3 linked regions of the Homo sapiens genome follow. The protein of the gene in region 3 interacts with the protein of the main gene of each other region in a biochemical or structural test. Each region holds a gene or a part of one and is shown on either strand. Other genes may lie near its edges. The genes, in order: MAGI2, SHANK1 and APPL1.

Region 1 (3,653 bases), on a different chromosome or scaffold from region 3:
TCCATGTATATGCGAGCAAAGGTCAAGGGTGCAGGTTTTGGGATTAGGGAGCTGGGTTGACACCTTGGCTCTACTATTTAACAGATACATGATATTGACCAAGTTCCCTGCTTTGAGCCACAGTTCCTCATTTGTAAAGTTGTGAGAATGAAATGACATAATGTAGGAAAAGTACTTGGCATAGTGTATGACACACAGTGCTCAATAAATGTGGACTATTATTAATATGATTGTTGTTAAAATAGGATGGAGGAGATTTGGGTCCCTTGGTTTCAAACAGAAAGTTGCCACAGTTCATCCTCTGATCTTAGATAAACTAATATTTCTGTGGATCAGTTTCAATAAAGGCACTTGTCCTTTCTCCCCAGTGAACTATCACAGATTTTCAGAGGTCTACTGGTTAGAGGCTAACTTTATGATTAGAAATGCTCTGAATGCAAATTATCCATTATAAAATATATTCAGAGAAATATTTTTTCCTGCTTAAAATGCAGAAAATCATGGCTGTTTGAGATAAATGTTTTTTTAAAAATTTCAATTATGTATGAATAACAATTTTATTTTTGGAGAACTATTTTATCATGGATTGGTATTTTTATCTTCACAAACCATAATACTTGAAAATTGAGCTTGCAAATTGAGATTGTGCCTGACTATGCTGAGGAGTATATTAGGGATGAAGAGACATGTTTTCACAGATCTTGAAATAAGCAACTCAACAGACATCAGTTTATCAGAATAATTCTGGAATGGGAGGTACAAATGGCTAGGGATTTCATTCTGAGACATCCTTGCCCAGCAAGCTTGCAAACGTTAAAAATGAAAAACAGAGTTGAACTTTTAGAGTTGACAACTTTTCTGGTCTTTTGTAGGTGTATAACATAAAATGAATAAAACAATTAACAGCATTGTCTTAATTAACAGTCCCTCTTCCCAAATTGACAGAGAGGCCAAGCAGACATTTTCAGGGATCCAGGTTAGGTCTGCCTCTAGAAAATGTCACAACCTATGTGATTGGTCAGATGGAACTTCACTTTTCCATAATGTCTATCAGAGAGGGTACTGATGTGGTGGCTGGAACGTGGGTCCACGGCTCAGAACTGAATTGGAGTGGACATTCCCTCACTGTTATTATAATTCCTCTTCAGACTGTGGCAGCTGGGGATGCTTTGGGAATCGTTTTTAATTGATTCCATTCATCTCAGTGTCCCAGAGAAGTGTCTGATTCAGATAGACTATTTTTCTCTCCTGTTTCTTTTAGTTTTAATGTTATATTTTCTACATTTAAAAGGTTGAAAGAACAACAAATACTTGTATACTAACATCCAACTTAATGATTGGAACATTGCTCATATTAGTTGAATCCCCCTTGGCTAGCACCTCTCCCCCAACTTGCACTCCTTTACAGCCCTTTCCAAGGTAACCATTGCCCTATTTGAGGTTTGTTATTTACATATACCTTTATAATTTATATCATATCTAGGTGTCCGTAAAAACAATATCTCTAAATAGTATCTAATCTCTAAATAATAATAATCCCTGGAAAGTATTTTACATATTTTAAGCCTTTTGTAAATGGTATATATTTTAATATTCTGTAACTTTTCTTAAAATATGTTTGTGATATTTATCTATTTTGATACTTGTGCCTCTAGTTGATTAGTTTTCATTGTAATACAGTATTTAGTGATGGCTATATTACTACTTAATAACATTCATCCATTCTTTTGTTAATGGACACCGGAGTTATGACAAATCTGTGGCTATTGAAAATAACTCTGCTATGAACCCCATGCTGGCACAGACCATGTGCATCTTCAACTTTGTTAGATAGTGGCAAATGGCTGACAAAAGAGGTCACATTGATTTACACTCTGATCGGTAGTGTGTTGAAATTTTCATTGCTTTACATCTGACACAGTACTTCGTATTCTCAGACTTAATTTTTACCAATCTAATGGATGTGATCATAGTTTTGATTTGCATTTCCCAGACTGCCAGTGAAGGTGAGCATCTTTTCATGTTTATTGGCCTTTTGGATTTTCTCTTGGGTATGCCTCATTTCCTCAATTTCCTATTCAGTGAGTTTTTTTTAACTCATTGACTATTTTTTATGTCTACTTTCATTCTTGCTCCAACATTCTTCTTAGGTTCAGGAGGCTGCAAGGTATAGTAGAGATCACATGGGATATGAGGTCAAAAGACTTTGGTCTGAGTTCTAGTTTCATCACTTATTAGCTGTATAACTTTCCCAAACTGGCTTCAATCCTCTGTGACTCAGATTTTTTAGAAGTAATGATGAACAATAGTAATAGCAACTTATTGTTCCATGGGAAATAACGAATGAGATCATACAGGTGAAAGGGTTTCTAAGCTGTAAATTGTTATGCAAAAGATGATTGCTATTTCAGTAATTACTCTTTGTCCTTTGTTATATTCTTCTATAAAATCAGGACAGTTCTACCCAGATATTCCCACCACAGTTACAGTCAAGGATGACTTGAGTATGATTGTGGAAACAATGGGTTTCTGAATGGCCAAGTAAAAGTCAGAGAGGTAACAAATGCCACTTCCTCTAAGGCTCTCCCTAACTTTAATCACTGTTAACAGACTCCCCAGTCCCCAAGCACGCTCTCTCCTTCCCTCTGCTCTGCCAGAATTTCACGGGAAAGAACTAAGGGTTATGTTGAAAGCTCTCAAGTTTCCCTGCCAGGTCTAGAGAGTAGTAGTTTGAATTGTAGTGATTAATGTTACCTATTTTTGAGTTTTAATGTGATCTTGCTATTTAGAAACAGAGTGAGAACTATTTGTGTTTCTTAGTAAGACTGCCTTTTACAATTTATGGATATTTTCCACTAACAGCAATTTTTCAAGTCATCAGGCAAGGATAAAGAACACTGCAACAATATCTTTATGAAGATACGTAGAAGATTTCTGAATGTAAAAGATGAGTGGTCAGTTATCACAGGATAAAACTATATAACAACTTGATGGTACTCAACTGCCCACTTTAAAAAAATATATAGATGTCTAGATAATAAGTCATGCCCAAAACTCTTATAGACGGGGATGTCAGCAAACATTTGCTTGTTCAGATAGAACTTATTGGATAGAATATTAATAGACTGTGCTGTATGAATGTCATTTACATGTCGTGAAATAAAAATATAAGACACCTGGTATATGTCATCTGACGGTGCCATGCCAAGTCCTCAGACAGATTGGGTTTAAGAGCACAGAAAGGGACATCATCAGGAAGACTGGCTCTGGCTCTAACCTGTTGGCCTACTTAAGACGGAGAATTGGAAGAGTCACTTGATCTCCCCATCTCTCAATTTCTTCTTTTATAAAATGGGAATAAAAATATCTCTTACATTTCCTCTTTTGCAGAGCTACTGTGAAAATGAGATCATCCTTGTGAAAATACTTATAATTTTATCAAATTTTTTCTCCATAAAAATAAGAAGATACATTTCTTTTGAAAGCTAAGCATATATTTTCATTACTACATTGCTGGAAAATTTACTTTGTTTGCTAAATGGTCATTCACTTCAGGCCATATTTAGGTTAGTTCTAGGGCTACTGACCTCAGGCCTGTTGGTCAGATTGAGTGTGAGTGATGAGTTAGGTGTCCCACAGGTCTGGTCTCACAC
Region 2 (3,653 bases), on a different chromosome or scaffold from region 3:
GGTCAGACACATTTGGATAGCAGACCTTCAAACAGAATTCAAGTGAACTCTGTAGATGGACAAGGATATTTAAAACCTGCTCCCAACCCTCTGTGTATCTGAAGCAGAAATGTAACTCTACTTTCTCTAGGACTAGAAGGTCTTGAATGGGCTCGAATTCTGCGACGATGCAGCTGACTGGCTGCTCTGGGAAGCATCTGCATCATCCCGTATTTCCCCACGTAGAAGTTGCTGGGCTCTTGTTCGAGGCCCCCTCTTCCCCCATCCCATGTTACAACAATGGCACACACTAAATCCTCTCAAAAACTCTTTGGGCTGGCACTAGGCCATTCCACTTCTACAGAGAGGTGGATTCATTTGCCTAAGATCACCCAGGTAGAAAGTGCAGGGTTGGGACTGGAAGCTGAGAAGGTGGGCTCTAGAACCACACCTATAACTGCATCCTGTCTTGAACCACACTGGCTTCAAGGGACTCACAGATTTCAGGGACTGTCAGAAAGAAGTGGCAGCTCACCAAGGAAACAAACATAAGCAGGTCTCACTCCAGTCTCCTTTGTTAATAACTTTTTTTTTTTGAGACGGAGTCTCACTCTGTCACCCAGGCTGGAGCACAGTGGTGCAATCTTGGCTCACTGCAACCTCGGCCTCCCGGGTTCAAGTTATTCTCCTGCCTCAGCCTACTGAGGAGCTAGGACTACAGGTGCCCACCACCATGACCGGCTAATTTTTTGTATTTTTTTTAGTAGAGATGGGGTTTCACCGTGTTAGCCAGGATGGTCTCGATCTTCTGACCTCATGATCCACCCGCCTCAGCCTCCCAAAGTGCTGGGATTACAGGCGTGAACCACCACGCCCAGCCTGTTAATAACTTTTTGTTCATCATGGGATGTAGGTTGTGATGGTGATGGGCAGAGACAACAGAAGCTACTGAAATAAATGGAAATTTAAAGGCTGGACCCAGTGGCTTACACCTGTAATCACACTTTGGGAGGTCAAGGCAGGAGGATCACTTAAGCCCAGGAGTTTGAAACTAGCCTGGTCAACGTAGCTTGTCTCTACAAAAAGTTAAAGAAAAAATGGCCAGGGCCAGGCATGCTGGCTCATGTGTGGAATCTCAGCACTTTGGGAGACCGAGGTGGGATGAATCACCTTAGGTCAGGAGTTCAAGACCAGCCTGGCCCACGTGGCAAAACCCCTCATCTCTACTAAAAATACAAAAATTTGCCGGGCATGGTGGCGGGCACCTGTAATCGCAGCTACTCAGGAGGCTGAGGCTGGAGAATCGTTTGAACCTGGGAGGCAGAAGTTGCAGTGAGCTGAGATTGTACCACTGCACTCCAGCCTGGGCAATAGAGTGAGACTCTGTCTCAAAAAAAAAAAAAAAAAAAAAAAAAAGAAGAAGAAAAGAAAAATTGGCCAGGCATAGTGGCGTGCACCTATAGTCCCAGAGGATTGCTTGAGCCCAGGAGTTTGAGGCTGCAAGTGAGCTATGATTACACCACTGCACTCCAGCCGGGTGACAGAGTGAGACCCTGTTTCTAAAAAAAAAAAAAAAGCCAGGCATGTTGGCTCATGCCTGTAATCCCAGCACTTTGGGAGGCCAAGGCGGATGGATCACCTGAGGTTGGGAGTTCGAGACCAGCCTGACCAACATGGAGAAACCCCATCTCTACTAAAAATACAAAATTAGCTGGGTGTGGTGGCATGGGAGGCTGAGGCAGGAGAATCGCTTGAACCCGGGAGGCAGAGGTTGTGGTGAGCCGAGATCACGCCATTGCACTCCAGCCTGGGCAACAAGAGTGAAACTCCCTCTCAAGAAAAGAAAAGAAAAAAAAAAAAAGAAAAAGAAAATATTTGTGAAAGCATGCTTCTGTGACAGCAAACTCCTGCCAACCTGGTTTCTGTTTCCTTTCTGCCACCCTGAGACCCTAAAGGGACACAGCCATGCCATCAACACCTCTGGCCTCCCTTGTTGGCCACCAGCCCCCGCTTACCTCTGCCGCTGCAGGGAGGAGGTCCTCTCGGGGACATAGCTGGCTCCCCCGTGGTGGCTGTCTCCGCCTCCCCCACTGCCTCCTCGGGCCCAGGGCAGAGCGCCGCCAGCTGCCGAGGAGCCCCCAAACTGCTGAAGCTTGGAGCTGAGTTCACTGATGATGCTGGCTTTTACTGTGGCCAAGGCTGAGGCCTGAGGCTGGGCCAAGGGCCCGGGCAGAGGTGGTGGCGGTGGGCCCGGGCCCTCCTCCCAGGGCAGCAGCTTCCGGGGCAGAGAGGAGGCCGTCGGCAAGGGCACCGGTGGGACTTCTGGCTCTACAGCCACCGGACCCCCCGCCACGCCTGCCGTGGGGGGTCCTGAACAAGCACGCAGGGCCAGCAGCCCATCGGTTCCAGCCCCTGTCACCGAGACGGTGGGGCTGGTGGGGGTAACAGGGTCTCGGAGTCCCCCGCTGGGGCCAGGCCGCAGGCCTCCGCTGGCTCCTAGCGCCCGGCCCCGGAGCTTAGAGGGAGTCATGAGCTGAGGAGGGTATGGCGGGCCGGGAGTACTGCTGCCCCCAAAGGCCTGGCCGTCCAGGTAGGCCACATAGGTGTCCAGAAGCTCCGGCCCACTGGCCACACCGGCCCCAGCCCCGCCCCCACCCCCTGCGCTGCCACCACCTTCGGCAGATAGGCTGCTCAGCGTGGAGGCGCTGCTGATGGTCTCCAGTGGGTGGTCACTGCTGCTCCGACTGTCCACCTCCTCGATGCCAGAATCCGTGCCAGGCGGAGGGTCCGGGCCAGGCTGTGGGGCAGCGGGAGCCGGTGCTGCTGGGGCAGGCGGGCCTGGTGGATGGGGGTCCCCAGGAGCGGCGGAGGCCCCCTGGGTCAGGGTGGCCACCTCGCTGTCATAGGATGTCAGGCTGGATGCGGTGGAGTCCAGGGTGGGAGGGGCTGCGGCCACAGCCGGGGGTGGCACAGGGGGTAACGGGGTGGCAGGGGCAGGTGTGTCGGGCAGCGGGTGGGGAGGCCCAGGCGTGAGGGGCGACTCTGGCTTTTCGAAGCTGTTGGAGAATTCCAGAGGCGGAGGCAGCGGTTCCACGAAAAGGAATTCGCCATCTTCCACATCCACCGAGGGGGCGGGAGGCGGCAGGACCAGCAGGGGCAGCCCGTTCTCTTCGCTGGCCCTCGGGGAGGTCGGGGAGGGGGGCACGGACCGGCGTGGGCTGGGCGGCGGGACCCCCGGCCCGTCCTCCGAGGGGGGACCCCTTCCGCTCGTCACAGGGGCCCGGGGCTGGCAGTTTTCAAGGAACCGCACGTGCAGCGGCAGCCGCTCGGGTTCTTCGGGGGCTGCGGACCTCCAGGGCTTGCTTACTCCGGGGTGCGGGGCCGGGGGCTCCGTCCCCAGCTGCAGCAGGAGGGGCCCCACCCCGGGAGCGGTGGGCGGCAGGCGGTGTAGCAGGGAACGCCGGGCGGCGGGCGGGCTGGCGGGAAGGGACTTCTCCTGGCTGCCCAGCCCGGCCCTGTACCCCAGCTCCCGGCGCGCAGGGTCCGGCGGGGAGGCCCCCCAGAGACGCAGCACTGGCTCGTGGTGGGCGTGGGGCGAGTGGTGGTGCGGGGTGGGCGGCGGGGCCTCGTAGCGGGGCGATGGGGGCCTGGGAGGCGGCTGGGGGGCCCCGCCG
Region 3 (3,653 bases):
TTTAGATTTTAAGCTGCAGTTATCTCCAGTAGTTATTGGTATTTTCATTCTTCCCCTGGGCCTTTGGGATGTAATGTGAGTATGTCTACCTTGCCTTTGATAGCCTTAGTTTCCTTATCTTTGACAAATTTTTATTGACATTCTTTTTTTTTTTTTTTTTTTGAGACGGAGTCTCCCTCTATTGCCCAAGCTGGAGTGCGGTGGCATGATCTCGGCTCACTGCAAGCTCCGCCTCCCAGGTTCACGCCATTCTCCTGCCTCAGCCTCCTGAGTAGCTGGGACTGCAGGGGCCCGCCACCATGCCTGGATAATTTTTTTGTATTTTTAGTAGAGATGGGGTTTCACCGTGTTAGCCAGGATGGTCTCAATCTCCTGACCTCGTGATCCACCCGCCTCGGCCTCCCAAAGTGCTGGGATTACAGGCGTGAGCCACCGCACCCGGCCTGACATTCTTAACATTTACTTATAAGCTTTCCCCCTTAAAATAAAGATAATTTAAAAAAATTTTTTTATTTTGAGACAGAGTCTTGCTTTGTCGCCCGCCCAGGCTGAAGTGCAGTGGCGTGATCTCGGCTCACTGCAACCTTCACCTCCCAAGTTCAAGCTATTCTCTTGCCTCAGCCTCCTGAGTAGCTGTGACTACAGGCACGTGCCACCACACCCGGCTAATTTTTTGCATTTTTAGTAGAAACGGGGTTTCACTGTGTTAACCAGGATGGTCTCAATCTCCTGACCTCATGATCTGCCTGCCTCGGCCTCCCAAAGTGCTGAGATTACAGGCATGAACTACTGTGCTCGGCCTAAAATGAAGATAATTTTTAAATGTGCATGGTAGAAAAATGACAAAACAAAACAAAAGCCAAACAATATAGACATGTATAAAGAAGAAGAAAGGAAAACCCCCAAATTGTGCATTCGGAAAAACCTAGTTAGCATTTTATATGCTGAAGAGTCGGCCATGTTGGGGAGGGTGTACTGTGGTATTTTTAGATTAGGACAGGAAGGGGTTTGGCCTCTTCTAGCAAAAACTGTAGAAGAAATAATCATACTAAATTATCCTGAAGTAAGACATTTAAAATATTTATACTACATGGAATGCTGTTAATTTAGCTTTGAACGTTTCTGTTGATTTGTTCTTAGTTTATAGAATTTTTAGTTTATGAAAATATACCTCTGTTGTTTCTCCTAAAGTTTGTGTGACATAGTTGGAAAATACCTCTGCTTTGTTGAAGTGAAACTAAGAACAAAAAAAAAAGACTTCTTAACATTACTATCAAAAGAGACAAAATAGATTAAAACTCAGAATTACTAGAACTTTAATATCCTACGATTTTTGCTTCCTTTAGAAAAAATATTTTTCCATCTGATTTGTATAATGATTAACATAAACTTATTGCTATTGTTTTATACAGACAAGGTCTTTACTAGGTGTATTTGAAGAAGATGCCACAGCTATTTCCAACTATATGAACCAGTTGTATCAAGCTATGCATCGGATTTATGATGCACAGGTAAAACACTAAGGACTAACTTGATGCTTTTAAAACACGAATCTTTAAGCCTCATGAGGACAGATAGTGTCTGTCTTGTTTACCACTGCTTTAGCCCTGTGTTAGGCTCATAGTAATAAATATTTGTTGAATGGATTAATGAACATTGAGTGTATTACAGAACTGACATTTCAACTACTAGTGTACAGTTTGTAGTACTACAAAAGTGATAGACGATTGAAGCATCTGCCCATTCTCCCCAAACATAGTTTGGGGGGAACCCCCCATTAAACTCACTGATAGTGATCTTTCCTAAGATTTGAATGAAGACCCCATGTCATCACTGGTATTTTCCCTAATCATGCTTATTACAATCTTATGGAGCACTTCCCCACCCCCACTTTTTTTTTTTTTTTTTGAGATGGAGCTTTGCCCTTGTTGCCCAGGCTGGAGTGCAGTAGTGTGATCTTGGGTCACCACAACCTCCACACCCCAGGTTCAAGTGAGTCTCCTGCCTCAGCCTCTCAAGTAGCTGGGATTACAGGCATGCACCAGCACGCCTGGCTAATTTTGTATTTTTAGTAGAGACAGGGTTTCTCCATGTTGGTCAGGCTGGTCTCGAACTCCCGACCTCAGGTGATCCGCCCGCCTTGGCCTCCCAAAGTGCTGAGATTGTACCCAGCCCCCTTTTTTTTTTTTTTGGAGATGGAGTTTTGCTAATGTCTCCCAGGCTGGAGTGCAATGGTGCAATCTCAGCTCACTGCACCCTCCACCTCCCAGGTTCAAGCAATTCTTCTGACTCAGCCTCCTGAGTAGCTGGAACTACAGGCATGCACTACTACGCCCAGATAATTTTGTATTTTTAGTAGAGGCAGGGTTTCACCATGTTGGCCAGGCTGGTCTCGAACTCCTGACCTCAGGTGATCTGCCCGCCTCGGCCTCCCAAAGTGCTGGGATTACAGGCGTGAGCCACTGCACCTGGCCAACACTTTCCCTTTTTCAGTGGAGGATTTGAAAGTTGGCTGCCTCTGTCTAGTTAAAAGAAGGCACTAAAAATTAGATGTACCTCTGGAGTACAAGAAGATGAAGGGTATGACTAAGTTTTCTTATTGACCAGCAATAAAATTTGAAGCTATGTTTGGATAACTTAATTATAAGCTTAAACAGCAACCTAGGTTCTGTAATATACTTTCTTTGGGATTAATTAAGCGTACAAGTTTTATTTTTTTCCCTTCTCATATTGTTTGCTTTCTGGCTTCACATTTTCATTATGTACTTAAGAGTTGCTATGTTGTTGTTTAGTTTTTCCTTGTGATCAGGCTCTGAAGCTTTGCTTTCTGACTACAGAGATATATGATTAATATGTTAAAGAAATGTTCTCTTTGTTATATTCACCAAAAAAACTAAATTAAAGTTTTTCATATGGCTGTGTTGCTATGTTATATGACTGGGTCAACCACATTTTGGTTGTATGTTATTAAGTGCTTACTGTAGTCTAGTATCAGCATCTACAGAGGGCAATAATCAGTCATCAACGTAGATGCTCTAAAGATTTTGCTAAGGTTATATCAGTTTATTTCTAGGCTTTAAAGTATTTAGTGCTTAGTTTTTATTAGCAAAAAACAAACACCAGGAACACTGCTGAATTCCTGGAGAGTGTCTATTTTATGGTTTGAGTTTTCTTTTAAAGTGCTTTAATGGTAGTACCCCTTTCCAGTGATTTAATGAAGGTTTTAAAAAACATGTACAATATTTATGTTAAGTGATAATAAATAAATTAGGTATTTAATTAGAAAAAACTAAAACTTTTTTCCCAGTAATATGCTAATTTGAATGCTTTTTCCATAGAATGAATTAAGTGCAGCAACACACCTGACCTCAAAACTTTTAAAAGAATATGAAAAACAGGTATTGTATATCAAAGTTTTAAAAGCATAATTTTAAAAGTATAGTATCTGTATAGATAGACTTTCAACAAGAATCCTTAAGTTTTCTTGAATTCACAGAATATGCCATTGAAATTTCATGATAGCACTTATGTTCAGATAATTTTAATGATTTAATATTAAATACAGAGGCTATCTAGTTTACTTGTTTTCTTTTTACAAATGAAGAAGCTGTGACTTGCTGAACATTACAGTGTTATTGGAGGAACTGGAGCTA

Evidence for each region.
Region 1: the proteins of APPL1 (region 3) and MAGI2 interact in a test that uses a peptide from one of them, tested with the Homo sapiens proteins (one large-scale study listed by IntAct).
Region 2: the proteins of APPL1 (region 3) and SHANK1 interact in a test that uses a peptide from one of them, tested with the Homo sapiens proteins (one large-scale study listed by IntAct).

The regions. Positions count from the first base shown.
Region 1 is NC_000007.14:78,257,113-78,260,765, forward strand, and holds part of MAGI2 (membrane-associated guanylate kinase, WW and PDZ domain-containing protein 2), read right to left. Parts: intron 1-3,653. UniProt on the Homo sapiens protein: Seems to act as a scaffold molecule at synaptic junctions by assembling neurotransmitter receptors and cell adhesion proteins. Plays a role in nerve growth factor (NGF)-induced recruitment of RAPGEF2 to late endosomes and neurite outgrowth.
Region 2 is NC_000019.10:50,664,198-50,667,850, forward strand, and holds part of SHANK1 (SH3 and multiple ankyrin repeat domains protein 1), read right to left. Parts: coding exon 1,995-3,653; intron 1-1,994. UniProt on the Homo sapiens protein: Seems to be an adapter protein in the postsynaptic density (PSD) of excitatory synapses that interconnects receptors of the postsynaptic membrane including NMDA-type and metabotropic glutamate receptors via complexes with GKAP/PSD-95 and Homer, respectively, and the actin-based cytoskeleton.
Region 3 is NC_000003.12:57,234,154-57,237,806, forward strand, and holds part of APPL1 (DCC-interacting protein 13-alpha), read left to right. Parts: intron 1-1,412; coding exon 1,413-1,511; intron 1,512-3,338; coding exon 3,339-3,398; intron 3,399-3,653. UniProt on the Homo sapiens protein: Multifunctional adapter protein that binds to various membrane receptors, nuclear factors and signaling proteins to regulate many processes, such as cell proliferation, immune response, endosomal trafficking and cell metabolism.